Regions from separate parts of the Homo sapiens genome. Here region 1 is linked to region 2. Evidence: fine-mapped expression QTL. Tissue or cell type: hippocampus. Region 2 holds a variant in brackets; the other region holds the start of a gene. All regions are shown on one strand. Distances are between the middles of the regions. Region 1 holds the start of HHATL (hedgehog acyltransferase like). Region 2 holds the start of CCDC13-AS1 (CCDC13 antisense RNA 1).

What was found. PIP is the estimated chance that this variant, and not a neighbour inherited with it, causes the effect.
Region 1: HHATL starts here. The variant in region 2 is the best candidate, but not a certain one, in a credible set for the expression of HHATL in hippocampus (GTEx, PIP 0.50).

The regions. Positions count from the first base shown.
Region 1 is chr3:42,694,080-42,709,210 of GRCh38, reverse strand. It overlaps HHATL (hedgehog acyltransferase like), which reads left to right and starts at 6,413. Exons shown (of 12, transcript NM_020707.4): 1 at 6,413-6,632; 2 at 8,372-8,490; 3 at 9,386-9,453; 4 at 10,066-10,179; 5 at 10,309-10,503; 6 at 10,860-11,069; 7 at 11,532-11,703; 8 at 12,066-12,210; 9 at 12,334-12,369. The coding sequence starts at 8,385. CCDC13 (coiled-coil domain containing 13) reads left to right here. Exons shown (of 16, transcript NM_144719.4): 16 at 72-3,455. The coding sequence ends at 231. It overlaps HHATL-AS1 (HHATL antisense RNA 1), which reads right to left and starts at 6,670. Exons shown (of 3, transcript NR_146957.1): 1 at 6,482-6,670; 2 at 4,979-5,062; 3 at 2,446-3,164. RefSeq lists a silencer at 7,628-7,697 and an enhancer at 12,185-12,787.
Region 2 is chr3:42,726,591-42,741,721 of GRCh38, reverse strand. CCDC13 (coiled-coil domain containing 13) reads left to right here. Exons shown (of 16, transcript NM_144719.4): 9 at 1,912-2,088; 10 at 5,809-6,015; 11 at 8,113-8,252; 12 at 8,752-8,835; 13 at 11,133-11,255. It overlaps CCDC13-AS1 (CCDC13 antisense RNA 1), which reads right to left and starts at 9,147. Exons shown (of 4, transcript NR_046732.1): 1 at 9,064-9,147; 2 at 635-747. RefSeq lists enhancers at 5,174-5,859, 7,232-7,915, 7,916-8,601, 9,131-9,425, 10,778-11,277 and a silencer at 9,131-9,425. The variant G/A (reference allele first, on the strand shown) is at 6,693.

The sequences.
Region 1 (15,131 bases), 33 kb after region 2:
AGGGCCCTCTGTCACCCACGCACACCTGTGTGCAGCTCCAGCCACACTGAGCACTGTCTCCTGTGGTCCAGGCTGGCCATCCAGGTGGAGGAGAATGAAATGCTAAAGGCTGCCCTGGGCAGTGCCCTGCGGGGAAAGGAGGAGGACTTCCGGATGTACCATGAGATCCTGGGCCAGGTGAAAAGTGTCTTCCTGCAGGCCCTGCGGCAGCAGAAGACAGGCAAGCAATAGGATGACAGCCCAGTGTCGGCCTGGCCGGGTGGGCAGCCTCAGGTCTTGAGAGGATAAGACTCTGTCTGAGGACTCCATCTGCTCCGGGAAGCCAGCCCAGGGCAGCCAGCTCAACCACTTCTACCAGAAGAGGCTCCTTAAGGATGACCAAAACCAATGTCTCAGGCCAGGAAGGCAGAAGAGAAGCCCTGGTGGGACACTGCAGGAGACCCTGGGCTGGCTGGGTTACAGCAGCAGGGAGGCCCAGCAGCCCACTGGCAGAGGCGAGAGCTCTGGGATGGCAAGGCGGCTGTGAATGGACAGATGCAGTCCCTCGGGCAGGTGTTCATCGCCCTCATCCTAGGTACTAGCCCTGGATGTCCCCATGGCTTCACACACAGAAGAGCCCTTGGTTACCCTAAGTGGGCATATCCCCCATGCCACTCAGCCCTGCCCTATCCCCTCACCCCCATCCCGGCTCCATCTGTAGCCGTCCACACCCTACACAGACTTGGGGCACTATGCTCTCAACCAGTTTGTCAGCCCACTCCTCAGGACACTTCCTCAGGTGCAGACCCTTGGACTTGTAATAATAATAAGTATTTTCATAATCACTGCAGCTCCCAGTGAGTGAGCATCTACTGTGGCAACCTGACCCCATTCAGTCCTCTAATGACCCAGGGGTTTGTTGTCTTATTTGACAGATGAAGAAACTGAGGTTCACAGAAAGAAGCTGAGCTAATATTTAACTGCAGTCTGCCTGACCCCAAAACCAGGGTCTTGCCGTTCAGAGATTACCCAGGGTAGGCGCACCCACCCACCACTGAACAACCCCACCCCTAGGCAGCAGCTCCAAGAGGCATCTTTGTTTGCTCACCAAGACTGCTGATGGATGCTGGTGGCAGAGGGCCGAGGTGGGGCTCAGCTGGAGCTTCAGGCAGAAGGGTTTTGAGGTAGTGGCTCCAGTCAAAGGTACAGTGCACCTCCCTCGCCATGGTGAACTTGGAGGGATGCTGCAGGGGCACCCTAAGATCCGCAGGCCTCTATGACTGTCAGTGTTGCCCTTTCTCAGCTGTAACTATGCACTTATAGCTACAGGAAGGAGTGGCCCCAAGGAGGGTCACTCATAGCCACACACCCCAACTCCGACACCCTGGCCACACAGGTGCACCCACAGCCCCACACAAAGATGCAGATGCACACACATACCTCAATTCAGGAGCATGCAACTGTACGTGCACACAGGCACCTCCATGTGTGCACACTCATGGACACACAGGTGCAGATGAGCACACACATGTGGATGTGGACACACATTCCCACACGTGAAGACATAGCCACTTGTGTGTTGCTTGTGCAGTGATGCACAAATGCAGGTGCACATACTGTGAAAACACCCCCTTCCCCAGGAAAAGCCACTGGGGCTCCTGCGAGCATCTTGTCAGCTCCTTCCTTGGAAAAGCCACTGCGGCTCCTGGGACCCTGTCTTCTCAGCCCCTTCCTTGGGGATGGGGCTATGGAGGGACCCTAGCTGGCCCCCACTCCTCAGGGAGCCCCTGACCCTGCATGGGGTCACACGGATCTAGAGATCCCACAGCAAGTTAGAGCAAAGGCCACCGGGATGAACTGATGATTCTGGTGGGGTCCTAAGGGTCTCTGGGAAGGAAGAGTTTTTCTCTGGTTCCTTGTGAAGGAAAACGGCCAGGCAGAGAGCCAGGAGAGAGAGGGTCTGTGCTTGGAGGGGACAGTGTGTGACAGCGAGGGGTGGGCTGGATGTAGAGTCTGAACACAGAGGAGTCAGCACCTTCTCCTGCAGGCCCTGAGGAGCTCCAGAGGGTGATCTGAGTATGAGGGGTACAGGCTCTGGCCTCAGTGCAGTCCCAGGGAGTGAGAAGCAGGCATAGGATCAGCCATCCTTCCTCAAGATCACCTCAGGGAAGTGCAGAGATGGTGTGACCCACACTCCAGCCACTTCAGGGTGGTTCTGCTGCCCTTCCTGGGCTATGCCTGAGAAAGGAAGGAGCATTAGGTCATGGAGTCTGGACAGGTGGGGCTGCCTGGGGCATACTTCTCTCCCCACTTACCAGCTGTGTGGCCTTGGGCAAGTTATTTAACCTCTCTGATCCTCCACATTCTCATCTATAAAATGCAGACAATAATAGAATCCTCCCTCAGGGGGCTGTTATTAATATGTATGTCAAAGAATAACCCAAAGACGTTTCACTAATTATTAGCTCTCTGTTTATTTCTGTACAAGGAACATGTATCTATAGACTGATTTCAACAAGAGTTATATAAGAGAGAGGGGAAAGAAAAACTGCAGACAGGCAGGCACAGGAAATCTTGTTTGCACATTTTTGGGTAAACTGATTTGCTGGTGTCTTGCTTTGGCCAACTCTGTATATAAAGATGAGTGTTTCAGCTTTCAGATTCCACGGGCAACCTTGACAGCATTGCTGTGGTGCCATGTGCGGGAGTGCCTGTCATGTCTGCTGGCACCTACCACCGGGCACCTCCCCACCCCTAGCTTGGTTAGATCAGGTCTGCTCCATTCCCTCATTGGAACCCTCTGCAGGGTTCACTGAGATAAAGTGTCCATTGCTTACAGCAGCTGCTCGCACACAGTAAGCGCTTAATAATTATTCGCTCTTAGTGTTCCCTCCATTTGTTCAACCAGAACTTGTTGAGCAGTTCCTCTGCCCCAGGCACAGAGGTGCCGAGGTGAGGCAAACACAGTCCCTGGCCTCCAGGAACTCTCAGATCAGCTGAGGAGAGAGACAGACTGGTCACAGGTCACCATTCCATCCAGCCAGTCGGCCACCAGGCAGTCAGTGAGTGCCAACAGCATGCCAGCCTCTCCAGGCCTGGGAGGGACCTAGAGGTGAATCTGACTTGCTTCCTCCTTTCAGGGAGTTTCCAGTCCAATCAGAGGTGTGGGAAACGCCATGATGGAGCTGGGTGGGGAAGGATGCAGGACCGGGCTGCAGCACCACAGGGCTTCCCCCACCATCCCCACCCCATCCCTGTGGCAGTTCCCAAGTTCCCAACCTCCTTGATCAGATCTGGGTAGAGAGGGGGCTTCACATCTCCCTGAGGCAAAGGAGCAAGGAGGAGTAAAGGGAAGGTGGGGAGAGCCTGGGAGAAGGATTTTCAAGGGAAGGAGGTCATCAAAGGGGTCAAAGATAGGGACCCTGAGAAACCTAACTTAGGTGGGCCAGGTGCACAGCCAGGCAGCTGGTCTGTCCAGGTTAGTACCAGTGCCTCTCCTGGGTAGCACCATCTGTCCTGGGCACCCTGAGGATGACCTCCCTGTCCCTCAGGCAGGTGGGCAACAGGTGTGCTGGATAAGACACCAAGGGCCCTGGCCAGATCCACGAGGAGGTAGTTGGAGGGGAGGGTGCAGGTGCCCTGGCGGGTTGAGGGGCAGGGGCAAGTAAAGAGTTAAGTGGTGAAGTTGCCTCAAGTGAGGGCTCTCCCTGCCACACCCCAGGCAGGTGCTGCAGGTCTTGGTGCTCAGGTTCCAGCACTGACAGGTGAGACCTGGCTGAGCTGTGGACGTAGTTTGGCCACTGTCCCCACAGGGGCCTCTGGGGCACCACAGCTGAGCTGGGCAAGGTTGCAGCCTGGCTCAGGCTTAAACACACTACATTGTCACTGGGCCCCTCCCCTGCTCCCAGGAGCCCAGGGCAGGGTGACCTCCAGTGGGTGTGCTCCTCTGCACCCCCACACCCAGGGGCCAGAACAAGCTTCTCCTCCCCACCCCCAGCCAGCCCACAGCCAGCCCTGAGCACAAAGAAGTCGGCCTGCCCACCTTCTCCCCACAGGTGTGCCTTTACGTACACTGACTCTCCTATATCTGTGAGCCTTGCACACACACAACACACATATACACACGTATGTACGATACATGTGCACACACAATACACAGGATACACATACACAGCAAACACATGCCATGAACAACCTACAACACAAAACGTACACACAGACCCACACACAACTGATACAAAACACAGTTGCACACGTACATGCAAACACACAGGATACTTTCCTCGCATTTTTACTTTGAGCAACAACCAAACAAAAAAAGTCTGAAAATTGAAAAGGGACTCAGATTTGAGAGAATTGTCCCCACTCCCCACCATATCTTTCCTAGTGGCCCTTGTGGCATTTGGGAAGCTGGCCCCAGGGCCAAGTGCTGGTCTTAGCTCAGTCAGCTTCCTGTCCCTCACGTGGGCTGGCCTTGCCAGGTGCCCTCCCCTGCCACCCCCCTCAGACACAGTGGAGCTGGCCTCAGGCTGTCCAACCACAGATCCATGGGACTTCCCTAGCCCTCCACCCCTCTTGCCATTTCCGCACACCACACTCCCTGCAGACCCTGCTGTGTGTGGGTCACCCAGGGAAGGCCTCACTTCTGAGTGTGAATCCAGCCTTTCTGGGCCTCTGGGGGTCAGGGTGTCTGTGGCTCTCTAATAGCCTCTGTTTATGAGCAAGGCTCTTGTCATGGAGTGAATCACCGGATGCCCCCTGCCACCCCAGTGAGGGCCAGGGCCAGCGGTATGCCCATTTTACAACTGAGGATCTGAGGCCCTAAGAAGTGGGTCACACCAGCTCAGGGTCAAGTAAATTGGCTGAACCTGTGTTCTTAACTCTGGGGTCAAACCACCCTGTCTGCTCCCTTGAGCCATTTTCTTGGAGCCTCGTGAGGGCCCCAGTGTGGGTGCACGGGGTTGTCGCCCCTGCAGGGCAGTCAGTGCCAGGAGCTTACAGGGCTGATCCAACTACTTGGCTTCCTCATGTGCCAGGTCCTTCTTCTCCCAACTGCGTACAGTGGCAACATCTTCCCTATGGGCTGTGGTGACATTAAAAAGTTAATCCATGTACATCCTGGCTACTATGATTAACTTACTCCTAACAACCTTTGACTACCCCTCCCTGAGGAAGCCCTCCTTAACCCTGAAGTCTGGCTCAGGTATCCTTCCCTTCCTGATGCTGGCCTCTCTAGTGCCCATTACCCACCACAGCTCTAACCCAGCACCCACACTGTGCAGTAGTCACCATTCATGCTTCTCAGGGTCGGGGACCACAGACACGGGCCTCTGTGTCCTGTGTGGAGTGTGTAGGTTGGGCGTCTCCTTGCTGTTCTCCAGGCCAGCGTGTCTATGTGCTCGGGAGGCAGCTCCCTGCCTAAGTGCAGTCTCTCCCCTTCCTGGGCCCTGATGGGTGGGGAGCAGCACCTCCCTCCTGCCTCCTCAACTGAGCCTGAAGCTGGGGTCATAGGATCAGCAGGGGCTCCAGGAGCTGTCCTGTGACTGATCACAGCCACAAAGCTCCTTCTACCCCCGAGAGCCTCCCCACAAGCACACAGGTGAACAGGTCCCCCTAGATAGCACAGACACATACAGCTGCCCGAGACTTGGCCTCAACCGAAGGGGCACTGTCAGAGGTTCTTAATCTCAGGGGCACCTTCAGGATGCCCCTCCCCTCAGGTATCCAGGGCTGAGGCCTTGGATGCTCCCTTCCAGAATGAGGGCCCTGTCCTACCAGGACTCCCAGTTGGTTAGGAACACACCTGTCTTCCTGTCTGCCTCCACTCTGCCACCGAGAGGATACCAGCCATTCCAAGTACCCACAAGCCTTGCCAAGTGACCCTGCTAGCACCCCTCCATCCAGGACACTCCCTATGGGACAGGGCTGACTTATGGGGATCCCTCTCAGCCACATGTCCCATGCCAGTTCCAGTCCCATCAGGCAAGTCAGCCCTCCCTCAGGCACTGATGCATGGCCAGCCAGGACTCACGGCATAATGAAAAGGACCAGGTCATGGGGCGAGACAAGTCTGCCCTGGGATAGCCCTTAGGAGGTCATATGTAAAGGTAGGAGCTGGAGTCCCTGGAGCCCAAGCATGAAAGTGTTTGCATGTTGTGACTGTGTGTGTCTGTGGTGGGGGCAGGGCTTACAAGCCTGGAGAGGCTGGTGGGACCACCAGGAGTCTTCCTGGAAGAGGGAAGTCCTGGGTAGCAGTGAGAGAGAGGCACAGGCTCTCTAGGAGCCAGGGGAGGCAGGCTGAAGAGAGGCCCAGGTGTCCCTGTCTGAGCCTATGCTACTGGACACCCTCCCCCCACCCAGCACCCGCCCCCCTTCAAGGATCCTCCCTGCGGCTCCCTGTGGCCAGCAGCTCTGCAGCACTCGGCTCTGCTCCACTCTGCTCAGCTCCGCTCCAGGAAGGCCACCTCCTCCTCCCCCTCCTCCTCCCGCTGTCACCACTCACCGCTCATAACCTCAAGGGGGTGGGGACCCCAGGGCTGGACACACCCCACCGTGGCCCCAGAGCTCAGCCGGTCGCACGGACGGACAGTTGGAAGCCGGACCCCAGAGCCTGAGGTGGGCAGTGTGCCAGGGTCCCTTGCGGCCTCCTCAAGGTCAGTGCCAGCTGGGGATGCAGCTACTCTGGGGCTCTTGAGACTTGTGGGGCACACCCCAGGCCCTCATCCCAAATCACAGGCCCCAAAAGGGGCTTTACCCCCGGGGCATCTGGGGCAGGCAGGACCAGGGGAAAGGGTATGCCCCCGTGTCCACAGGCCAGCCCTGGTCTGGGGGTCTATCAGGAGAGGCCCCAGGCTGGGGGCCAGCTCCTTGCAGAGGCCTCACTGGGGACACCCCGCACCGGCCATGGGGAGCTAAAATTGGAAAGTGGCGAGTGGGAGGCAGCTGACAAAGCTATTTCACGGGCTCTTCACCATGCTCCGGTTTCAAGCTCCTGCTCCATTAACCTGATCCCCAGGGCCTCTCCACCCCCACCCAACTGATGAGGAGGTGCCTCCACCCTCAGGCCGACAGCACAGCCATCAGGCTGGCAGCCTCTGCTGTGGGCAGGGGCAGTGGTGGTCTTCTCTTACCCCAGATTCCAGAGGGGGGTCACTGAGAAACCCAATCCTGAAGGGAGGCAGGCAGAAGTCTGTCCCAGGTCTGCCATGTGACCTTGACAGGTCCCTGCCCCTATCTGGCCCATGACCCCTCCATCTGTACGAGGAGACCGTCGGCTGCTGGGGGGCCCAGGGGAGATGGCTACAGGGCTGGGGATGAAGATTTAGGGGAGGATCAAGGGTGGGCAAAAGGGCCACATCAGCCACCTCTTGGCCCCGTCAGCCCAAGAGTTGCCTGGACATGTTCCCTGCTTCCTCCCTTTAATTTGGGTCCTATGTCTGTATCCATGGAGTCCTTGGGAAGCCCCTGAGCCAGGCTGAAGCGGGATAGGAAGGGTAAAGGTGCTAGCTGAGCCGTAGTACGGCCCAGCAGTTCTCCAGGGGACAAGCTAGGCCCCCGCTGGAGGGAGTGGTGAGACTCAGCCGGGGCCTGATTCTGGTCAGCACCTTGGACAGCAGCCAGTGCCCTCCCTGGCCCCGCCTGGCCCCGCCTGGCCCCACATCCGCTACTCCTGGGCACCTCCTCAAATAGCACAGCCTCCAGCTGGTGCCCAGGGCCTGAATACACAGAGCGCTGAGAGAGTGGGGCAGTGTGGTCACGGACACAGGCAGGGACTGGGATGTGACAGGCTGGAGCTCAGGGACTTGTTGGGGGAATGGGGGTCAGTGACAGGCTGGAGGCTTAATGCGAGGATGGAGGCTTGGCTCTAGGGGCAGCACCTGGGGTGGTCATGGGATCTCAGGGAGGGGAGTGGGAGTCAGAGAAAGGGTCTTAGAGAAGCTGGGGCTTTGTGAGGAGCTAAGGGAGACTCACTGATCGAGGTGGGGACCCTGCAGGCAGAAACCTGACTGTAGTGATAGAGGTGGGGTTTCTCCGCACGCAGGTCATGGGGGCCTTGGCAGGAGCGGTTTTGGCAGAGGGTGGGGCCGGTGCCTCTGGAAGGTATGAAGATGTAAATGAAGGTGAGGGAGGCAGGCTGCGAGTGAGGGCTCTGCGGGCAAGAGCCTTGATGGGTGGGGTGGGGGCAAGAGCAGCAGCTGGGATGGGGCACTGGTGTTCGGTGGCCTGTGAACTGTGGGGGGCACAGGGGCAGGCAGAGTGATGGTACAAGGTCCCCAAGGGGCTGGAGGGGCAATCTCTCTTCAGAGTGGGTCCCCACTGGGGTGGTGGGACCATGAGGTGGGGCTAGGCTTGGCTGGAGACTGTAATTCCCTCACCCAACCTGTCTCCCCAGCCCTGTCCAGGCTATGGGCATCAAGACAGCATTGCCGGCGGCTGAGCTGGGCCTCTACTCTCTGGTGCTGAGTGGGGCCCTGGCCTATGCTGGCCGGGGCCTCCTTGAGGCTTCACAAGGTAATGGCTGTGCCCCGGGGCAGGTGGACAGGACCCTTCTTCCCCTGGAGGCCTCAGGGTTCCAACCAGCAAAGCCAGAAAGTTACAGGCTCCAGACCTAGGGTACTCCTTCTAGAACACGGCTGGATCTCCCTTTTCAGCCCGGGGTTCCCATCTCAGATAGTCACTGGAGGCTGGGTGGAGCCAGGTTCAGTCACAGGAACACAGAGATGCAGAGACACTGACAGAGAGATGGACACAGAGTCACACACATAGACACACACACACACACACACAGAGGCCTGGACCCAGACACACACACACAGAGACCTAGACCCAGACATACACACACACACATCCCGACACACACACACACACACAGAGACCTAGACCCAGACACACACACAAACACACAGACATATACACACACCCCCCAACACACACACACACACATACACACACAGAGACCTGGACCCAGACACACACACACAGAGAGAGACCTGGATGCAGACACACACACAAACACACAGACATATACACACACACCCCAACACACACACACACACACACACACACAGAGTCCTGGACCCAGACACACACACACAGAGACCTAGACCCAGACATACACACACACACATCCCGACACACACACACACACACAGAGACCTGGACCCCGACACACACACAAACACACAGACATATACACACACACCCCAACACACACACACACACACAGAGTCCTGGACCCAGACACACAGCGAGACCCAGAAAGAAGCAGATGCAGCACCAAAGAGACTCAGACCCGTGCCCCGTTCCTGATGCCCTCGCTCCCCAGGGTGGGGCAGCCTTGTCCACGGGGGAAGGTGGGGCAGGGGATGTGAAGGCCCCTCTCCCTGAGGCCACACTCTGTTCTCAGATGGGGCCCACAGGAAGGCCTTCCGGGAGTCTGTGCGACCTGGCTGGGAGTACATTGGCCGGAAGATGGTAGGTCCCCCACATCCCAGGGTCCCTCCCATCCCGAACCCTTCTCTGCTCTCTGCTGTTCCAGATGTTGGCAAGTAACAGAGAGCTTCTCACAGCTCTGGGGCCTCTGGCTTGAGCTTCAGTGCCTTCAGCTTCTTTACTGGCCCCTCCTGTATCCTCCTGGGACATCAAGTTTGCCCGGGCCCTGCTCACTTGGGAAATAGGTCGCATTAGTGGAGTGTGCTTCAGTGGAGCCTCCAGCACCTCCTTCCCAGAAACAAAGCAGTAAAGGGGGAATGGCAGGCAACGTGCGGAGGAGAGGGGGAGCTTCAAGCGACCCGGCAGCCCCCATGGTGCCCTTCACTCCTCTCTACCCTCCTGCCTCGGTACTTCCTTCACAGAGGAGTGTGGAGACCTGCAGGCACTGCTCTTGTGTTTGCATAAAGAGGACACGTTGGGTTTGGCTAGTGGTAAAAAATAATTATTATTATTAAATTTAAAAATGATAATAATAAAAGAAGAACATGAAGGCTGGGAAAGGTGCTGGGGCTCTGACCAGCCCAGGTTCCAGCTCGTCCTGTCCCCTCTCCCACCCTCACCTGCCCCACCTCCTTCTGCCCCGGACTGCCCCAGGATGTGGCTGACTTCGAGTGGGTGATGTGGTTCACCTCCTTTCGCAACGTCATCATCTTTGCCCTCTCCGGACATGTGCTGTTTGCTAAACTCTGCACGATGGTTGCCCCAAAGGTGAGCTGGACCTGGGCCACCCAGCCTCTCCCTGCCAGCTCCTCTTTCACCACAAGGGTTGTGGGAACCCCCTCCTGGGGTCACGCCCCCATTTATATGGCGAAACTGAAGCCTTCTCCCTGCCCACAGCTCCGCTCCTGGATGTATGCTGTGTACGGGGCCTTGGCTGTGATGGGCACAATGGGCCCTTGGTACCTGCTGCTGCTGCTTGGTCACTGTGTGGGCCTCTATGTGGCCTCGCTTTTGGGCCAGCCCTGGCTCTGTCTTGGCCTTGGCTTGGCCAGCCTGGCCTCCTTCAAGATGGACCCCCTAATCTCTTGGCAGGTGTGAACTGGTGCAGGGGTAGAGGGTGTAGGGATAAGATCCCAAACCTCTCACTTCATCCAAAGTCCTTGCACCCCAAGTATCCCCAAGTATTCCCTTCACTTTCCACCTGTCTTCAAGCCTTTGGGTATGTCCTGGCCACAAGGTGAGCACCTGCATCACAGGAGGAACTATCCAGATCATCCCCTGCTCCTCGCATTGCTGGGATAGAGCAGTGGCCAAAGTTAACTGGCTCTGGAAGAGAGGAAGGGACAGGACCAGGCTGGGCCCCTGTGGGAAGCTAGGGAGTGGGGAATAGGTTTTCCAGAGACAGGAGGCACCCTAGTGAGCTGGTGGCCTGTTCTTTCCCCCTCCAGAGCGGGTTTGTAACAGGCACTTTTGATCTTCAAGAGGTGCTGTTTCATGGGGGCAGCAGCTTCACAGTGCTGCGTTGCACCAGCTTTGCACTGGAGAGCTGTGCCCACCCTGACCGCCACTACTCCTTAGCTGACCTGCTCAAGTACAACTTCTACCTGCCCTTCTTCTTCTTCGGGCCCATCATGACCTTTGATCGCTTCCATGCTCAGGTGAGGGGACACCCTGTGGGCTTCTAGAACAGGGCTGAATCTCCCTTTTCAGATTGGGGTTTCCATCTCAGATAGAATTCCCCAAGCAGGCTGTATCCCCATCCTCAGGCATGATTCCAGGATGAAGCCGTGTCTCCCCTCCCTCCTCAGACCCCAGGATGGGGCCACCTTTCCCCTCCAGCAGGGACCCCAGGGTGGAGACATGTCTCTTTTCTCAGACAGGACTCCCAGGCCACGAATGTTCCCTTCCCACTCAAATGGGGCTCCCAGGACAGAACTGGGTCTCCCATGGCTGGCTGTGAATCCTCCTCAGACTCCAGGGTGACCTCTGTCTCCACCCTCAGGCAGGACTCCTGGATAAAGCCATGGCTCCTCCTGCCCCAAGTAGTTGGTGAGCCCCCCTCAGACAGGGCTCCCCAGGCAGGGCTTGCCTCTTCCCTCAGACCCTTCGCATCCCCCCAGGTGAGCCAGGTGGAGCCAGTGAGACGCGAGGGTGAGCTGTGGCACATCCGAGCCCAGGCAGGCCTAAGCGTGGTGGCCATCATGGCCGTCGACATCTTCTTTCACTTCTTCTACATCCTCACTATCCCCAGCGACCTCAAGTTCGCCAACCGCCTCCCAGACAGTGCCCTCGGTGGGTCCACAGAAGAGAAATGGGGGCAGGGCTGCCGCCCCAGGAAAACAGACCCTCTGCACCCCCACGGTGCCACAGTCAGGGGAGCTGAGGCACGCAGGGCACAGCACCTGAGGGCGTGGGAGCAGGGGCTTATTCTTTCTAATGCATGGGTCTTGGCATTAGCTTCATCCTGTGGGGCCAGAGCAGCATCCCACGGACCCCACCCACTTCACCAGGCATGACTGATTTCCACAATATGGGGGGGTCTCCGTGGGGCGGGCAGAGCCTGGTGTCTCCCCAAGGAAGTGGTGGGACAGGGTCTTCATGGGGGCAGGCCCCAGGCGATTGGACCCCAGGCAGTGACAGTGCCCTGCCCCCAGCTGGCCTAGCCTATTCAAACCTGGTGTATGACTGGGTGAAGGCGGCCGTCCTCTTTGGTGTTGTCAACACTGTGGCATGCCTCGACCACCTGGACCCACCCCAGCCTCCCAAGTGCATCACCGCACTCTACGTCTTTGCGGAAACGTGAGTGCTGGCCAGGACGGGGGAGGCTCACCCCCTGGGACCACACCTTCCCCTAGCCTCTTCCCCCATGCCTGGGGAGCTCTGCGCCTGATGGCAACATGCCCATCTGCTTTCCTCTTACAGGCACTTTGACCGTGGCATCAACGACTGGCTTTGCAAGTGAGTAGGAGTGGGGTGGGGGTGGTCACAGCCATCCTGCCAGGTGTCTGAGCAGGGCAGTGCCAAGATGGGTCCACATTTTAAAAGATCACCCCTGGGCCAGGGGAAGCAAAGAGGGCAGTGAGGAGGTATTGGCAGAGGTCTGGGTGAAAGATATAGAAGTTAGGATTTAAGTGAGGGCCCTCGAGGTGGAGAGAGGTGGTGGGAGGAGGGTCACACAGTCAGCAGCCTGAACAGGACGTGGCCATGAACTGTGGGTGTTGGGAAGGAGAAGGAGATGACGCTCAAATTGCTGTCTGCAGCCTGGGAGGATGGAGGGCAGTTTCCAGAGAGGGCTTCAGTTTAAGAAATGTATAGTCGCAATCTAGGAGACATCCCTGTGGAGGTTCAGGGAGGTGGTTGGGTCTGAGGGTCTGGGTTTCTGAGGGTCCAGAGGACTGATGGAACTCAGAGCGTCCTGAGTGTGGGCAGGTGGTTTTTAGGCTTTGGGAGTGGGTAAGTCCTCAGGAGAGGGAGTGGTGTGAGAAGAGGAGAGACGGGGATGGCCGAGATTCAGCCTGCAAGAGCTCTGCTTGGAAGGAAAAGGAGCCAGCAGAAAGGACTGGAAAGAGTAGTTGGAGGGGCAGGAGAAGAATCAAGGTCATGTGCCACCCTGGAAGCCAAGGGAAGACCATCCAGGCATGGTGGGGACAGCTTGGTCAGATGCCACTGAGCCTCAAGGAAGCTGGAGACCGAGGATTAGTGCTGGTGACATGGAGGTTTTCAGCCTTTCATGGGCAAGGCAGGAGCAGGTAAGGAGGGAAAGTCAACTGAGGAGTAGAGAAGTGTGTGATGACTCCTGGAAGAAGCCTGGGACTGCAGGGGGAAGACAGGAGTGGCTGAGGGAGAAGAGGGATGTGTTAAAGATAGGAGAGAATGGGACATGCTAAGAAGAATTATTCAACAGAGAAGCTGGGGATGCAGGATACAGGGGTGATTGATGGAGTGAGGTCCCTGAAGAGGAAGGAGGTGAGGGTGTCTAGTTCCAGGCGGAGGCCTGGCTTCAGTGGGAGGAGGAGGAAGAGAAGCCAGTGTGGATGCAGAGGAAAGCAGGTTAATGTAGACAAGTAAGGGATTCCACCTGAAGGCTTCAGCCTTGTCCATGAAGCAGGAGGCACGGCCATCAGCTGAGAAAGCCAGGACAGGGACGTGGAGAGAGGCAACATATATGCTTACCCCCACAACCCAGCCTGGATCCCCCCACTCATACTATCTCTCCACTCATACTTGTGGGGAGATAAGAATACAGTGGCCCTTGCAGAGCAAGGGAGAAGCAGCTGACTAGAGAAATCTTGGCACTGAGTACCCAGGTGGTATTGGAGGTGGTGGGCTTATGAACTCCAGCATGTGAAGATGTGAGATTTCCCCCATGGGGCTTAGCTGCCTGGGTGTAGCTGAGGAGAAAGTAAGTGATTGGGCTCTCCCAGATGGATGACAAGGAAGAAGTCAGGAATAAGGGTTTTTAGATTATTTATAGTCATGACTCATTGGATATAAGCCTGCTAAGGACGGTGGTGAAGGTGGGAGGGTCACAAGATCAATGGGATTGAAGAACTGAAGCTGGGGGGCCAGGAGGTCAAGAGGAGTTGGGCAAAGAATGGGAATTAGAAAGGAGTGAACTTTCAAGTGGTGACAAAGTTGGGGCATGGCCATGGGTGTGGGTGGCTGAGGTGGAGTGGAGAAAAAGCCATTGGAAATGAGGAGGTCGAGGAATGGAGAGGCTGGTTATTCCTGGGTCTTCCACAGAACTTATTTAACAAATATTTATTGAGCACCTATGTGCCAGGCATTGTTCTAGGCACTGGGGATACAGCAGTGAACATGGCAAAGACCCTGAACTCATGGAGCTTACAGTCTAGTGGGGAGAAACAGACCATAAACAGGTAAACAAACATAAATAAGATAATTTTAGAGAGTGGTAAGTGTTATGAAGAAAATAAAATTGCAATGGGATAGAAGTTGACAACAGGGTAGAAGCTTCTTTAGTCGGGGTCTAGGCAGGCTTCTCTGAGGAGATGATATTTGAATTGAGATTTGAGTGATAAGGAGATGTGGAGCAGAGAATACCAGGTAGAGGGAACAACAAGGGCAAAGGCCTTGAGACACAAACCAACTGTGTGGGTGTAAAGGTAAGAAAGGCCAGTGAGGCCAGCATGATGAACTGGGGGAGCATGGTGGCTGATTTGGTCAGGAAGGGAACAGAAACCAGACCACTTGGGATCTTCTAGCCAGAGTAAAGAGACTGAGTTTATTCCTATTGTAATGGGGAGCTATTCAGAGAGGTTAATCATGGAAGTGATGTGACCTGAGCTACACTCTTAAAAGATGCCTCTGGCTGCTGTGTGGAGAATGAACCATGGGGGCAAAAGCAGAAACAAGAAGACCACTTAAGAGGCTCTTGCAATAATTTATGTGAGAAGAGTGATCATCTTGACTAGGGTGGTGGTGGTAGAGGAGGTGAGTGGTGGTCAGGACTGAGAGGAGCCAACAGAATTTGCTGGCTTGCTTGGATGTGGGTGATGAGGCAAACTGAGAATCCAAGATGGCACCAAGGCTTATACCCTGAGCAACTGAATGGATGGTGGTGCCATTCACTGAGATGAGGACGGAGCTGGGTTTGAGCAGGGATAGGGGAATCTGTCAATCAAGTGACATGGCTAGTAGCAATTGCATATACAAATCAGGAGAGACTGGGCTAAAGACACAGATTTAGGGGTCATCGT
Region 2 (15,131 bases):
TCTGTTGCCCAGGCTGGAGTGCAATGGTGTGATCTTGGCTTACTGCAACCTCCGCCTCCGGGGTTCAAGTGATTCTCCTGCCTCAGCCTCCCAAGTAGCTGGGATTACAGGCACCTGCCACCATGCCCGGCTAATTTTTATATATTTAGTAGAGACAGGGTTTCACTGTGTTGGTCAGGCTGGTCTCAAATTCCTAACGTCAGGTGATCCACCTGCCTCGGCCTCACAAAGTGCTGGGATTACAGGTGTGAGCCATTCGCCGAGCCCACGACAGGGTTTTAATTTGTGGAGGGAGGTGGTCAGCTGTGCATTTTGGAAAGGTCACATGGTTGGAGCAAGAGGAGGAATGGGTTGGAAGAGGAATGGAAGGCAGAATAGTAATCCTGGAGACATGACCAAAGATCTTTGCCAAGATAGTGGACTGTCATGGAAGGGCCAGACACCTGGGACAGTGAGGACAGACTTTCTAGGGCTCAAGGACTGATTGGACTTGGAAGAGAGATGAGGAGGAAGAGTTATAAAGGACTTCTAGGGAGTATAGTGGGTGGGTAAGGGAGACAGGGTGGGTTCAAGAAGAGAAAGGGAGTTGAGATTTGGAAATGCTGGGTTTGAAATGCACCTAGCTTGAACTTACATGTTAGTGCAGAACAGATTATGTTGAACAGTTGGGCTGACCATAAGCTGCAATAGCGGGTGGAAGGAAACAGCTTCCTGCATGCATTCCCTCTGGCAGGCACCCATAAGAGCCTGGAGTGTGTAGGCAGGAGAGCAACAGGTGAGTAATGGCTGCCTCCCTGCAAAGGGCTTGTGTCCTATAGATTCATGTTTTACTTGTTTTGCATTTCTATAATTCACTTCATCAAGGATATGAAAATACTTTTCCAGCAACAATTCACCCTCAGGATCAAGCAGGTGATGTCACCCACTGCCCAAGCTCCTCCCCAATGTCTCCATCTTGTCTTTATGGGTTTGCCTAATCTAACCTCTGCCCCTTCACTCACTGTGCTCCAGCCACACACCTTCTACCCCAGGGCCTTTGCTCTTCCCTTCATCTCCTTCAGTCTCTGCTCAGATGCCACCTTTTCAGAAAGGCCTTACCTGACCATATCCTTCTCGCTATTCCTGTTTCCTACTTTCAAATTAGCATTTGTCACTATTTGACATTATCTGTCTCCTCCATTAGGATTATCAGCTCCTTGAGGACAAGGACTGTTTTGCTTTTTGCTGTCCCCCAGCATCTATAACAATACTAAGCCCATAGTAGGCCCTCAGGAAACCATAGTAGGAAACCTCAGGAAACCCATAGTAGGCCCTCAGGAAACCCTCGAGAATGAAGGGATGATTGAATGAGAGACTCCGAAGATGTGTGCTGCATGTGAGTTTCCAGTTGGTAGCTGACAAAGCAAGGTGCTGTCAGGGGTTGTGCCAAATAATCATGGAGGAAGTGGGAGAAAAGACCCTCCTTTCTCATTCTAGCTCCTGGTGGTGCAAGGTGCTGCAGTTGGAACCTAGCCCAGCACTCTTTTTCTAAAGTATGGCTTTTCTCTTTTCCCCTGCTTGGGGAGGGGCTTAGGGGTAGGACTGGCTGTGCTCTCTGGAGGACACACGCAGTTGGCTGGCGGCTTTCCTCTCATGTGCTAGGAAGTCTGTGTCTCAGGCTGAGGTTAGGAGTGCTGTCATGGGTTAGTGCTGTCATGTGCTAGGGGAAGGGTGGGAGGCTGCTGGCCACCTGATATCCCTGAGAGGCCTGGGCTGGGAGTCAGGGCCCTGGCTCTAGTGACTTGCTCTGTGGCATTCAACAAGCACCCCCACCCCCAGCCCCGGGCCTTGCCATTGAGTAGGAGCCAGGGAGCAGATGTGGCCAAGGTCCCACACAGCCCTGCTGCCCATGCCCTCACTTTCTAATTACAGAAACTTGCCAGTGAACGGGATGTCCTCCAGAGAGAGCTTGAAGAGCTAAAAAAGAAGTTCGAGGGCATGAGGTCTCGGAACAAGCTGCTGTCAAGTGAGATGAAGACCCTCAAGAGTCAGATGGGAACCCTGGTGGAGAAGGGCCGGCATGATGACGAGCTCATCGACGCCCTCATGGTATGGCCCCACCACTCAGGCAGGGCGAGAGCCAGGGGTGGTTCCTCAAAGGATGGGCCCCAGCCATGGCCAGAGTGAGCCCTCACTCACCCCTCAATGCCACCTGTGTAACCCCAAAGCCCGTTGCCTCCAGATGGCCCCCAGTACCAAAGCCCTGCCCCAGGGACAGGAGCAGCTCAGGGAGGCTGCCTGAGGGCAGGTAGGGGGCTGTGATGGAGCAGCACCAGGCACAAGGCACTGGGCCTATGGACCCCAAAAGAGACAGAAATGTATTGGGGGAAGGAGGTGGGATTATACCCTGGGTTATTTTTCAGCAAGGAATGAAAGGGACAAGAGGAGCCAGTACCAGTTCTTATCTCTGCAGTGGCACAGAACCCTTCCTCTTCTGGGCATGTTATAATGCTTAGTCCCTAAGATAACTTCTAGGATCATATATTTTAATCCCACTTCACAGATGGGGAAACTAAGACTCAAATTCATTAGATAACTCATCTAAGACCATACAACTGAGTTCAAAGCAGGTTTATCTGACTATAAAAACTTCCTGGATTAAACGTATCTCAAAATAATAAGAGCTATTTATGACAAACCCACAGCCAATATCATACTGAATGGGCAAAAACTGGAAGCATTCCCTTTGAAAACCAGCACAGGACAAGGATGCCCTCTCTCACCACTCCTATTCAACATAGTGTTGGAAGTTCTGGCCAGGGCGATCAGGCAAGAGAAAGAAATAAAGGGTATTCAAATAGGAAATGAGGAAGTCAAATTGTTCCTGTTTGCAGATGACATGATTGTATATTTAGAAAACCCCATCATCTCAGCCCAAAATCTCCTTAAGCTGATAAGCAACTTCAGGAGTCTCAGGATACAAAATCAATGTGCAAAAATCCCAAGCATTCCTATACACCAGTAACAGACAAACAGAGAGTCAAATCATGAGTGAACTCCCATTCACAACTGCTTCAAAGAGAATAAAATACCTAGGAATCCAACTTAAAAGGGATGTGAAGAACCTCTTCAAGAAGAACTACAAACCACTGCTCAATGAAATAAAAGAGGACACAAACAAATGGAAGAATATTCCATGCTCATGGGTAGGAAGAGTCAATATCATGAAAATGGCCATACTGCCCAAAGTAATTTATAGATTCAGTGCCATCCCCATCAAGCTACCAATGACTTTCTTCACAGAATTGGAAAAAACTACTTTAAAGTTCATATGGAATCAAAAAAGAGCCCACATTGCCAAGACAATCCTAAGCAAAAAGAACAAAGCTGGAGGGATCATAGTACCTGACTTCAAACTATACTACAAGGCTACAGTAACCAAAACAGCATGGTACTGGTACCAAAACAGATATATAGACCAATGGAACAGAACAGAGGCCTCAGAAATAACACCACACATCTACAACCATCTGATCTTTGACAAACCTGACAAAAACAAGAAATGGGGGAAGGATTCCCTATTTAATAAGTGGTGCTGGGAAAACTGGCTAGCCATATGTAGAAAGCTGAAACTGGATCCCTTCCTTACACCTTATACAAAAATTAATTCAAGATGGATTAAAGATTTAAATGTTAGACCTAAGACCATAAAAACCCTAGAAGAAAAGCTAGGAAATACCATTCAGGACATAGGCATGGGCAAGGACTTCATGACTAAAACACCAAAAGCAATGGCAGCAAAAGCCAAAATAGACAAATGGGATCTAATTAAACTAAAGAGCTTCTGCATGGCAAAAGAAACTACCATCAGAGTGAACAGGCAACCTAAAGAATGGGATAAAATTTTTGCAATCTACCCATCTGACAAAGGGCTAATATCCAGAATCTACAAAGAACTCAAACAAATTTACAAGAAAAAAACAACCCCATCAAAAAGTGGGCGAAGGATATGAACAGACGCTTCTCAAAAGAAGACATCTGTGCAGCCAACAGACACTTGAAAAAATGCTCATCATCACTGGCCATCAGAGAAATGCAAATCAAAACCACAATGAGATACCATCTCACACCAGTTAGAAGGGCAATCATTAAAAAGTCAGGAAACAACAGGTGCTGGAGAGGATGTGGAGAAATAGGAATGCTTTTACACTGTTGGTGGGACTGTGAATTAGTTCAACCATTGTGGAAGACAGTGTGGCGATTCCTCAAGGATCTAGAACTAGAAATACCATTTGATCCAGCAATCCCATTACTGGGTATATACCCAAAGGATTATAAATCATGCTACTATAAAGACGCATGCACACGTATGTTTACTGCGGCACTATCCACAATAGCAAAGACTTGGAACCAACCCAAATGTCCATCAGTAATAGACTGGATTAAGAAAATGTGGCACATGTACACCATGGAATAATATGCAGCCATAAAAAAGGATGAGTTCATGTCCTTTGCAGGGATATGGATGAAGCTGGAAACCATCATTCTCAGCAAACTATCACAAGGACAGAAAACCAAACACCGCATGTTCTCACTCATAGGTGGGAATTGAACAATGAGATCACTTGGACACAGGGCGGGGAACATCACACACCAGGGCCTGTCGGTGGGTGGGGGGCTGGGGGAGGGATAGCATTAGGAGAAATACCTAATGTAAATGATGAGTTGATGGGTGCAGCAAACCAACATGGCATATGTATACCTATGTATCAAACCTGCACGTTGTGCACATGTACCCTACAACTTATGTATAAAACAACAACAACAACAAAAACAAAAACTTCCTTGATTAGTAAGGCCATACTGCTTTCCTAACCCTACAGCTTGGACTTTTCTCTGTGGGACCCGAGGCACCAAAGTTTGGTGTCAGATTCCAAGTTGTGCCTGCAGGCCCGGGGCGGGTGATCATGTCTGGCTTGGCTGGGGTGTTTGGGGGGTGCTGGCTCAGGCACCTACCTTAGTTCATGATCACTTTACATGATAGGGTGGTGAGCGGGGCACAGAAGACCAGAAATCTAGGCCTGCCTCTGTCAGTATCTCACTGTGTGACCATAGGCCAGTCGCATCCCCTCTGAGGCTCAGCAGCCAGTTTTAAAAATAAGTCGCAGGGCTGGATGTCCTCTGAGGTCCCTGCATGTCACCATTCTTTGTCATTGAAAGTGGCATGATGAGAGCTGCAAACTAGTCCCAGTCATGCTATTCACCAGCAATATGCCCTTGGACTCTCTGGGCCTCAGTTTCCTCCACTCTGAGGTGAAGACAACAGCCCCCACCTGTTCCAAATCACTGACATTGTCCTTTCTGTTGGCCCTAGGCAGGAAGCCTTTGCCCAGGAGTCTCCTTGAGGGCTTTTCCTTGGGATGAGGCTTCAGTCAGGTGCTAATGGATCCCTGGCAGGGGTCCAGGTACTGCCTCCAAGGGCAGTCTCCCAGCCAAGCAGGATCAGGCTTTTCTTTTAGCTAAATATCTCCCCCACCGGGTGAGGAGTCACCATCTGATCTACTTTCTGTTGTCTGAGAGCCCCTTGGATCTTCTTGGCCCCAAACTCAGAGAAGGAAGTTGAGGACAGGAAAAGAACATGGTCCCCACCTGCCTGATTCAACATCCCCTGATGGCAGGCAAGGAAGGTGTTCCTGCCTCTCGAGGGAACAGGATCCCACTGTTAGGTTCCTGCAGCCTGCTTTGGGGTGAGGGAGGCAGTCTGTTCTTGTCCTCCCCGGCCCAAAGGGCCATGACTGACTCCACCTGCCCTCCTGCCTGGCCCCCCAGGACCAGCTGAAGCAGCTACAGGAGATCCTAGGCAGCCTGAGTCTGCAGGAGGAGAAAACGCGAGTGTCCCAGCACCACCTGGACCAGCAACTGAACAGCGAGGCTCAGCGGAGCAACAGCCTAGTCGCCCAGCTGCAGGCCATGGTAGCTGAGCGGGAGGCCAAAGTGCGACAGCTGGAGATGGAGATCGGACAACTCAATGTGCACGTGAGTAGGGCACTGGCAGCGCCCAAACCCATTTTCAAGCCGGGCAAGTCCATCCAGCTCCTTCCACTTCTTTCCACTTGCCTTAGCTCAGGCCAGACTTCATCCTTCCTGGCTCCACTTTGGCCACCTGCTTCTATCTGGCTCCCCAACCCATTCTGCACACAAACCTGATTGTGTCCTTGCTCTACTTAAAATCTGTTCATGGCTTACTGTCACCCTCGACCTCACCTGGTTCTCAAGGACCCAGGCACCTTCCAGTTTACCCTCTCCCATCCCCAGCTGTGGCCTTATCCTCAGGATTCAAGATGGTGGCAGTAGCTCCAGCAGCAGGATGAGAGAAGGAAAGCCACACTTCATTCAGCTTCTAGGCACCATGTGACTAACTCTTGCTGCCACCCCTCCTGCATCTTCTCTTCACCCCTCCCCTTTCCCTACACTCTGCTACCCAGGCACCATTCAGCTCCTGCTTGCTCCGCACTCCAGGGCTACGCGCAGCGTGAAGCACACTCCCTCCCCTCCTCCCCCACGGCCTCGGTCTGGCCGGCTGCCCCTCAGCCTTTAGGTCTTACCTAGTCAGGAGCTCCTCCAGGAAGCCCCAGGACCCCTGTTCTGTGTTGTGTTCCCCTCCTAGGCACTCTCCTAACTCCCTATGCATCCCCAAACCAAACTTCTCTCAC[G/A]CTGTGTAGTCATTTTCCTGTTTTCTCCCCTGCACTCTCTGTAAGGGAGCACAGACCGTGGTGCCTCAGTGCCTGGCACTGGAGCAAGCACACAGTAGATGCTCAATAAATGCTTGTCTAAGGCATGAGCTTGTAAAGATATTTTGTCTTGGCAGGTGCCTTGAGGGCACAGCTTGGGGCTGCTAGGAGTCAGGCACCTTCACCTCCCTGGGGTGGTGGTGGGGCTGGGTGGTGTCCTTGGGGAGAATTTCTTGACAGGCATGCAGGTCTCCCAGTGACAAAGGAGCCTTGCAGCCTCTGGCCCACTGGGAAATTGACTGGCTCAGCCAAAGGCATGTTGCAAAGCAGCCCTGCTCTTTGTTTCTGGGGATCCGTGGTTTGTTCAGAGGTGAGAGCCCAAGAGCCCCTCGGCCCTGCCTCAGTCTGGCATTGGCTGACCAGCCTGGTTTGTCCTGTAGCCTCTATTCCCACAGGCCAGGGTAGCCTGGGGCCCCAGGACTGGCTGTGACATAGTGCTGTGAGGCTGAAGGGGAGCCTGGGGGCACAAGGAAGTCTGGGAACAGAGCACATACGGCAGTGAATGGGGACTCACCCTGCTCCCCATCCTGGCTCACTGGGGAGGGAAGTCTGAAGGGGAAGATTCCAGCATCTTCACCTCACCACTGTCCTTTCTCCAGGCACACAGGAGAAGACTGTTCCTACCTCCGAGGTCACCAGCTGAATGGGGGCCAAGCATTACCCACCAGACTTAAGTCGGCACACGTTTCGAGTTTTCTCAAAATGGGTGGGGCTGGGGGACAAGCCAGGTTGTTAGGGGCTTACACCGGTTGTCCACTCTGGTGGCCTGACCTCCTGCTGGGGGTCCTCTAATGTTCCTGTCCAGTCCAGCCCCAGCAGGTATCCAGAAGAGGAAGGGGTTGAGGGAGGGGTGGGGGCCTGGCAGGCTTAGCCTCCACCCAAGGCTGCCTGCCCTCACTGAGTCCCTGCCAGCCTCTCTGGCTGCAGGTGTCTGGAAGGTCCAGGTGTTCCAGCTGAGGAAGGCAGCTGGCCTCAAGTCACACCTGGTGTTCAACCACATGTGGGTGGGGCCGCCTGGAGAAGCGGACCCACTCAGAGACGTCAGTCTCTGACCTGCCCCGCATGCAGGGCCGTGCACCTCCCTCTGGAACCTGAATGTAGAACAGCTTCCTGGCCCAGTCACCGTCCTCACACCATGTAGCTTTCTTTCTGAAGAGAGGCATTATTAGATGTCATTATCATGCAAGTAGTGCCTTCACCAAACAGGCCTCGCTTTTCACTCCTGAAAAGAAGCCTCTTTCATATCCTCTGAAAGCCCCGAAATCAAGCCAAGATCCCCTCCTGCCTTCTCTAGGCCTCTGAGCCAAAGCCCTGAGGATGGAACCCACATCTGTTCCTACAGTATCTTCGGAATAAAGGAGTGGGTGAGGGGTCCAGTGGCCGCGAGGTCAGCCCTGCCTATACCCAGTTCCTGGAGGACCCAGGCCTGACCAAGTCCCCGGCCTCAGCAGGCGATCATGTTGGCAGGCTTGGATCTTCTCGGTAAGAAAACAATGGGAGGGAGGGGTTGGAAAGTGAACATTAATTATTCGGAAGAAAGGTTGTTTCTTGCTACCTCTGATGGGAAGCCACAGGTGCAATTTTAAGATGACTATGCTGTTGTTCTTCCAATACGTGGGCCTCTCCTATGACATTAGCTCTGCGTCTGCAGAAATGAGCCGGTTAGGCCCAGATTTTATCACTTCAAGAGCATGCTGGTTGCAGCTCTCTGTAAGAGCCTTTCTGAGCTGGCCTCAAAAGTTTTCTGCCCCTGGGGCCTTCAAACAGACCCGTGTTGGGTTGTTCAAGGCTCTGGTGTCTCCTGTTCTGTCTCATTTTGAGCAAACAAGAGTTCTGGAAAGAAGGGCAGCAAATCCACAGGACTGCTGCAAGGGTTTCCTGGACCCCTGCTGGCCACTGCTCCACCTCACATGCAGAGGTGAGGCCCAGTAGGGCCTGGTCTGCCTTCCCAGGCTGATGGGCCCCTTCCGCCTTTACACAGCTCTGTGACCAGCCTGGGCCACACACTGGTGGAATCTGCTCTCACGAGGCCTTCCCTGCCCAGTCCCCACAGGACCTCACCTAGGTATGGACCCCCGACCCCCGGACTCTCACAGTTTTTTCCCATTCTTGATTGCTCAACCAGTATTGCCATCCCATTAAAAGGAGGGGAAACTGAGGCCAGGCAAAGTCCAGGGACTCTTCCAAGGTTACATAAAGACAGGGAGGATCAGGGAAGTCCTGTCCAAGATGATAGAGTAAGCAGCTTCAGAACTAGAATCTTGGCCTCTGACTCCCAGGCTAGGGTTCCTACCTGCTACGTGAGAATTAACCTGAGGAACCTTCCTGGGCCTGGCTTCTAGCACCTTCCCTCATCTTCTCTTGCTCATTGAGAATCAGCCTCTAAGGGGAGAATTTCACATGATATGGGTTCCCACTGATATCCCCTCAGACCTTGGGCCCCCTCTTTGTTGACAGAATCAAGCCAGAGGGTGTAAATGGGCCCTTTGTTCCTACTGCCAGCCCATAGACAAAGGACAGCGTTGTCCTGCCTCTAAGCCCTGTCCCGAGCCCTGCCCACTGTCCACTGGAGCCATGCTCCTGCTGTCAACACTCCCCACCCTGACCCCTCAGGCAGGTCAGCTCAGGTTCCAGGCAAAGCCTCCAAGTGGCCCCAGTCCCTCATCTCTGTGGCTCCAGGCAAACTGGTCCTTCTCTGGGCTGCTATCCCCGAAAAGTGGGGGACAGCATGCTGCTGACACTTGGCAGCATAGGGTCTGTGGGCCAAAGCTGCCCCACCCATCAGGCTGGGGTCATAAAGGCACTTGGGGAGAGTGGGCTGACACTGAGCCACAAGGCATGTGCCACGCTCCTTAGGGTGGGAGGTCTTGTCACAGCACAGGGAGATTGGGGAGGCTCTGCCTCTCTGAGGTTTTAGTCACAGTAAAGAGAGCAGGAAGATGGACAAGATGACCCCTTCGAGCCCCTTCCAGGCCTGTGTGGCTGTGACCTCTGTGCCACACAGAAATACAGGAGCTGCTCTGTGCCTTGGCTGCCCAGACTGCTGGTTGTCAGGCTTGTTTCTTCCACAACACACAAATACTTACTAAACTCGACCATGTGTGGGCCCTACCCTCATGGAGCTTACAGTCCCCTCCCACAGGTGACAGGACAGGAATTCACAGGGCAGAGTGATCCCAGAGAGTATGTCTATTCGGGCTGGCATGGTTTGAACCCATTCCCTTCAGGTGACTCTGGTGGGGTGCCTGGGAGGAGGGCAGAGTGAAGAATCGGCCCTTTGCTCCTGCTCCTCCTCTTCCCACATTCTAGAACTGGGGAAATGAATGGGGCTTTCCAAACTGCAGTGCACACACAGAGCCCCTGCTGATCAGCCAGGTCAAGTGTGGGTTCTGATTCAGCAGGTCTGGGGTAAAGCCTGGGATTCTGCATTTCTAACAAGCTGCTAGGAGATGCCAGAGCCACCGATTCAGAGACCACTTGTAGTAGCAAGGCCTTAGAGCATATTTAGGAGTCACAGAGGGGTCTGCAGTTCTCGGAGCCCATCTAAACCACCCCTCTCAATGTTTAGTGGGGGAACTGGGGCCAAGAGAGAGGAAGAGACCTGCCCAAGACCACCGAGAAGTCAGCCCTCAGGATCACATGCCCCAGCCCAGTTTTCAGTACACTGCCCAGCTCTGCAGCCTTCCCTATGCCCTGTACTGCTAGAAAAGTAAGCTCAGGGTCTCACTGGGAAAAGTGGGGGCACAGCGGAGAGCAGCTTGGAACTCACATGTGGGCTCTGGGGGGTTGAAGTTGGGGGGCAGAGTTTACCTTCTGTCCTGGCTCCAGCCAGCAGGTAAGAGGGAAGCAGTGATGGGTTGGCTTAGGGCTGGAGAAAATTGAACAAGTCACAAAGCCAAATGCACAGGCTCCAGGAAAGTGGGCTGGGCTTGGGGACCAAGCCAGAAGATGCAGGAGGGCTGGGAGAGACTGGCAGGGACACAGAGACTGGGCACACCTGACACTGGGTAGGGCAGCCAGGCCCCAAAGGCCACACAGATACCCAGGGCACCCCAGGTCCCCAAGAGCCACCTGCCACAGCACCAGACTAATTCCAGGCCCCCACAGGGCTTGGATGGACAGAGGTACCAGTGTAACTCTAGTTCTGGTAGGTTCAGCTTTGGAGCCTAGGGACTTCAGCAGGACCAGGAATGGTGGGCAAAGAAGCCAGCAGGGGAGGACCTAGAGGGACTGGGTTTGCTTCCTTTGCTCTGGCTGACATTCGCCCTGAATGTCCTTCTAGTCCCTCCAACCATCACAGGGGTAAGTGTTATTTCTAGGCCTCGGATGACCTCTGCCCTCTGCCCTCCACCCTGGTCCCAGGTTCTCGGACTCCCCAGAACAAAAAGGCTGGCAGGCACAAGTGTCAGAGATCAAGGCCCTCTGGCAGGCTGCCGAGGTGGAGCGTGACCGGCTCACCGAGTTTGTCACTGTCCTGCAGAAACGGTAACACATGGCACCCAGGGATCTCTCCCATAGGCCTGCATGTGGTGGGGACTGGGGCCAGGCCTCATTTATGACTGGGTCCTCCTCACCTGAGAGCTCGGCTCCCAGTGTTGGTCCAGGGCATTCCTAGCCACAACTCATGCGCCCCACAACCTTGGGGCCTTGTCGTCACACTGTGTTTTGCCCTTAGGAACAGCCCCATTCTACATGCACCCAATGGGACTGTTGTATGGCATGTGGACATTGCTGGGAGTCTCGGGGGAGAGACACCCAGAAGTAAATCAGTCAAATCAATCCATCAATAATTAAAATCTGTGATGAGCCTGGCACTGTGCTTGGTGCTGCTGGAGGGTTTGGTGGGAAGAAAACACAAGCTAGACTGACATCTGGAATTGGAAAGAACAAGAGAGGTGCTGATAGCTGGGGAGGCAGGGAGGGAAGCACGAGGCCTGAGGCACTGGACCAGGAGGTATGGTTTTCTCTAAAGGGTTGTTGACAGACTTCCGTTCAGATAAATCAGTGCTCCTCGCTCAAATGATCCTTTTGGCAAGAATTGCAGGTGTCCAGGCCAACACATGGCTCAACCATGTGACCTCCACACTGAAAAATATTAAGCACACCACTGAGTTTCTGCCCTAACAGGCTATATCATGTATCAGTCAAGGCTCTTTGATGACAGACAATAGAAAGCAATTCTGGCTGAATTCAGTGAAAGGCAGATTTTTGGAAGGTACTGGCAGACTCCAATGCAGAGAGCAGGAGAGGAGCCTGAGAAGGTGCAGGCATCTTTGGTAGCAGGAAACCCTAGGCAGTTCCCTGGGCCACTGAAATGGCATGGCCAAATGGCTTTTAGCTCTTGTGCCCATGGGTTCTGGGAGAGAAGGTTGAACTGGCCAGTGCTGCGCCCGTATCCACCCCACATGTGAGGGCACTCTGACTGAAGTTCCTCCGGGTGCTCACAGAATGCAGGAAAGGTAGTTTGCCAAAGGGAAAATGGGGGTACTGATAGCAAAAGAAGGAGCTAGGGGTGCAGGGAAGGACAAAACAAAGGATGCCTGCTACCTAAATAGTGAGTGGTCAGCTTTGCTTTCACATAGTACATAGAGATGATGTGAATTTCAGACATACTCAAGTATATGAGAAAAGCAACATTGATTCTTTTTCTATAATTGGAATGTAATGGATAGTACAAGTCTTTAGTCTATCAAGTAGTAGAAACATACTCAATGCAGGCTTTCTCTCTCATTTCTCTTGAGTTACATCCGAGTTTGGGGGTGTGTGAAAAAGGTGACTCAGTTAGCTATTGCTGCATAACAAACCATCCCAAACCTAGTGGCTTCAAACACAATGGTTTGTGCTTTCTCACGATTCTGTGGCTTGGCTGGGTAATTCTACCCCACATAATGTCAGCTGGGGTCACTCACTGGTCTCATGCAGCTGGCACTTCAGCAGGGATGCCTCAGTTCTCCTTCATGTGGCTTCTGTCTCCATGTGAGATCTCATTTTCAGGGCCTCTCCACACAGGGCTAGGATTGGGTGAGGCAAGCAGGGCACCTGGGGTATGAAATGTAAAGAGGTGCTCACACCCAGTCACATACATGCAACTCTCTGTCTGCGAATATGCTGGCCCTTTTTGGGTCCTTGGGTTCCTCCTGCTACTCTGTGTCATCCTGGGGTGTTGGGGCTCTGTGAGGCTGTGCCAGGCCCATCAACCAACACCTGTTGCCTTTTTTCCTTGAGGTTATTGCTAAGTCCCTGGGCTGTAACAAGAAAAGGGAACCCAGGTACCTTCTGCACTCAAATTCCCTCAAATCTATTTGGTTTAAAACTAAATGTTTTAAACTAAAACCATTTTGTTATAACTAAATTGGCCAATCATCAAAAATGATGATTCCTTTCAAAACTGATGATTGGCCAATTAAACCAAAGGAACTATTTTAAAGTAAAACTAAACGTTTTAACTAATGTTTTAACTATCCCAAAGTACAGGACCTTCGTTTCTCAGAGATCCTCAATATCTACTCCTTTCTTTATCTGCAGAGTCTGTCCCAGCCTTGCACAGGGGAGGGTGGGGGGGAGTCTTTCTCTGCCTAGCTTCCCTTCTCCTCTACTCTGCCCTACAATTTCCAGCTGCCTCAGTTGCCCTCCCCCACCCAGTTCCCTAATCCTGTGTGCTCATCCCAGCATCCCAGGGTGCTCTGCGTGGCTGCCCCCACCCCACCCTGCAGTGGAAAGTGCCTCAGGCAGAAAGCCAAGGCCAAGGGCGAGCCAAGCTCAAGTCCTTCCTTTCCTCAAGTCTTGTATCCAGTGTGTGTCGTCCTGTTGTCCATTGTCTGAAAACAAGTTCTTTCTTACATTTTATCAATTTTTCTAGTTACTTACAATAGGAGTTGGTTAGTCCACCATGACAAAAGTCACTAAATATGTCTCTTTTTTAAAAAGCACGTAGTCGGCTTTGTTCTTAAATTTAATCTGGGAATTTCTGTGTTTGAACAGTATCGTTTAATCCACTTTGATTTTGGTAATATTTAATCACTTTAATTAATATTTTCTATTTGCCATGATTTTTCTTTGTTCCTTTTTTTCTCCTTTCTTCCCTTATATTGGACTGATCAAGTTTTATTTCTCTTACTTCTTTGCAAGTTTGGAAGTTAGATATTCTATCTCTGTTCTTTTAGTGGTCACCCTTAACTTTTAACATCAAACTCAGCAATCTAAAGTTAGTTGGTTTTGCTACTATCACTTTAAGCAAAAGAATACATTTAGAATGTTTTAACTTTGATTTCTCCGTTTGTGCCTTTCATGTTACTGTTTCCTAATATTTCTCTTCCACATTCTTTTTTTAAACCCTGAAATTAAACCCTCCAAAGTAAGTCTTGAATACTGAATAGTGAATATTCGTTTCCTTTTGCCAACATGTTTGAAAATGTCTTCACTCACTGTTACTTCTTGTATCTCAATCTTCCTTCTAGGTTCACTTTCCTTCTTACTGAGATGCCCTTTAGTTCAGTGAGGCCATGTAAATAGTAAACTCTCTGAGTATTTGTTTATTTTTATTTTATTTATTTATTTATTTATTTTTCTTTTCTTTTTTTGAGACCGAGTCTCTCTCTGTCACCCAGGCTGGCGTGCAGTGGCATGATCTCAGCTTACTGCAACCTCCGCCTCCCAGGTTCAAGTGGTTCTAGTGCCTCAGCCTCCCGAGTAGCTGGGACTACAGGTGTGAGCCACTACGCCCAGCTAATTTTTGTATTTTTAGTAGAGATGGGGTTTCACCATGTTGGCCAGGCTGATTTCGAACTCCTGACCTCAGGTGATCTGCCTGCCTCAGCCTCCCAAAGTGCTGGGAGTAAGGGCATGAGCCACCACGCCTGGCCTGTTTATTTTTAAATGTCTTTATTTTGCCTGTCTTGAATGAGAATTTAAGAGAAATTTGGGCATAGAATTCTAAATAGATGGGTATTTTTTTCTCAGCACTTTCAGGCTATCCTATTGTTTTTTATCATCTACTATTGCTAAAAAGAAATCTGCTATCAGTTTTATTGTCATTCCTTAATAGATTTGTCCTTTCTCTCCGATGCTTCTTCAGATTATTCTCTTTGTCTTTGAAGCTTTGAAATTTCACTGTGATACGTATATACATATACGTATACACACACACATATGTATATATGTAATATGCCCATATATGTATATATGTATATATGTGTGACTTTACATATATGTAAATATATATTTTATATATACATGTAAATATGTGTGTATATTTGTATGTATGTATATGTAAAGTATACATATGTAAATATATGTAAATATGTTATACGTAATTTTATCTACTCAGAAGTTAGTGTTCTTTTTCAATCCAAGGACTTTATA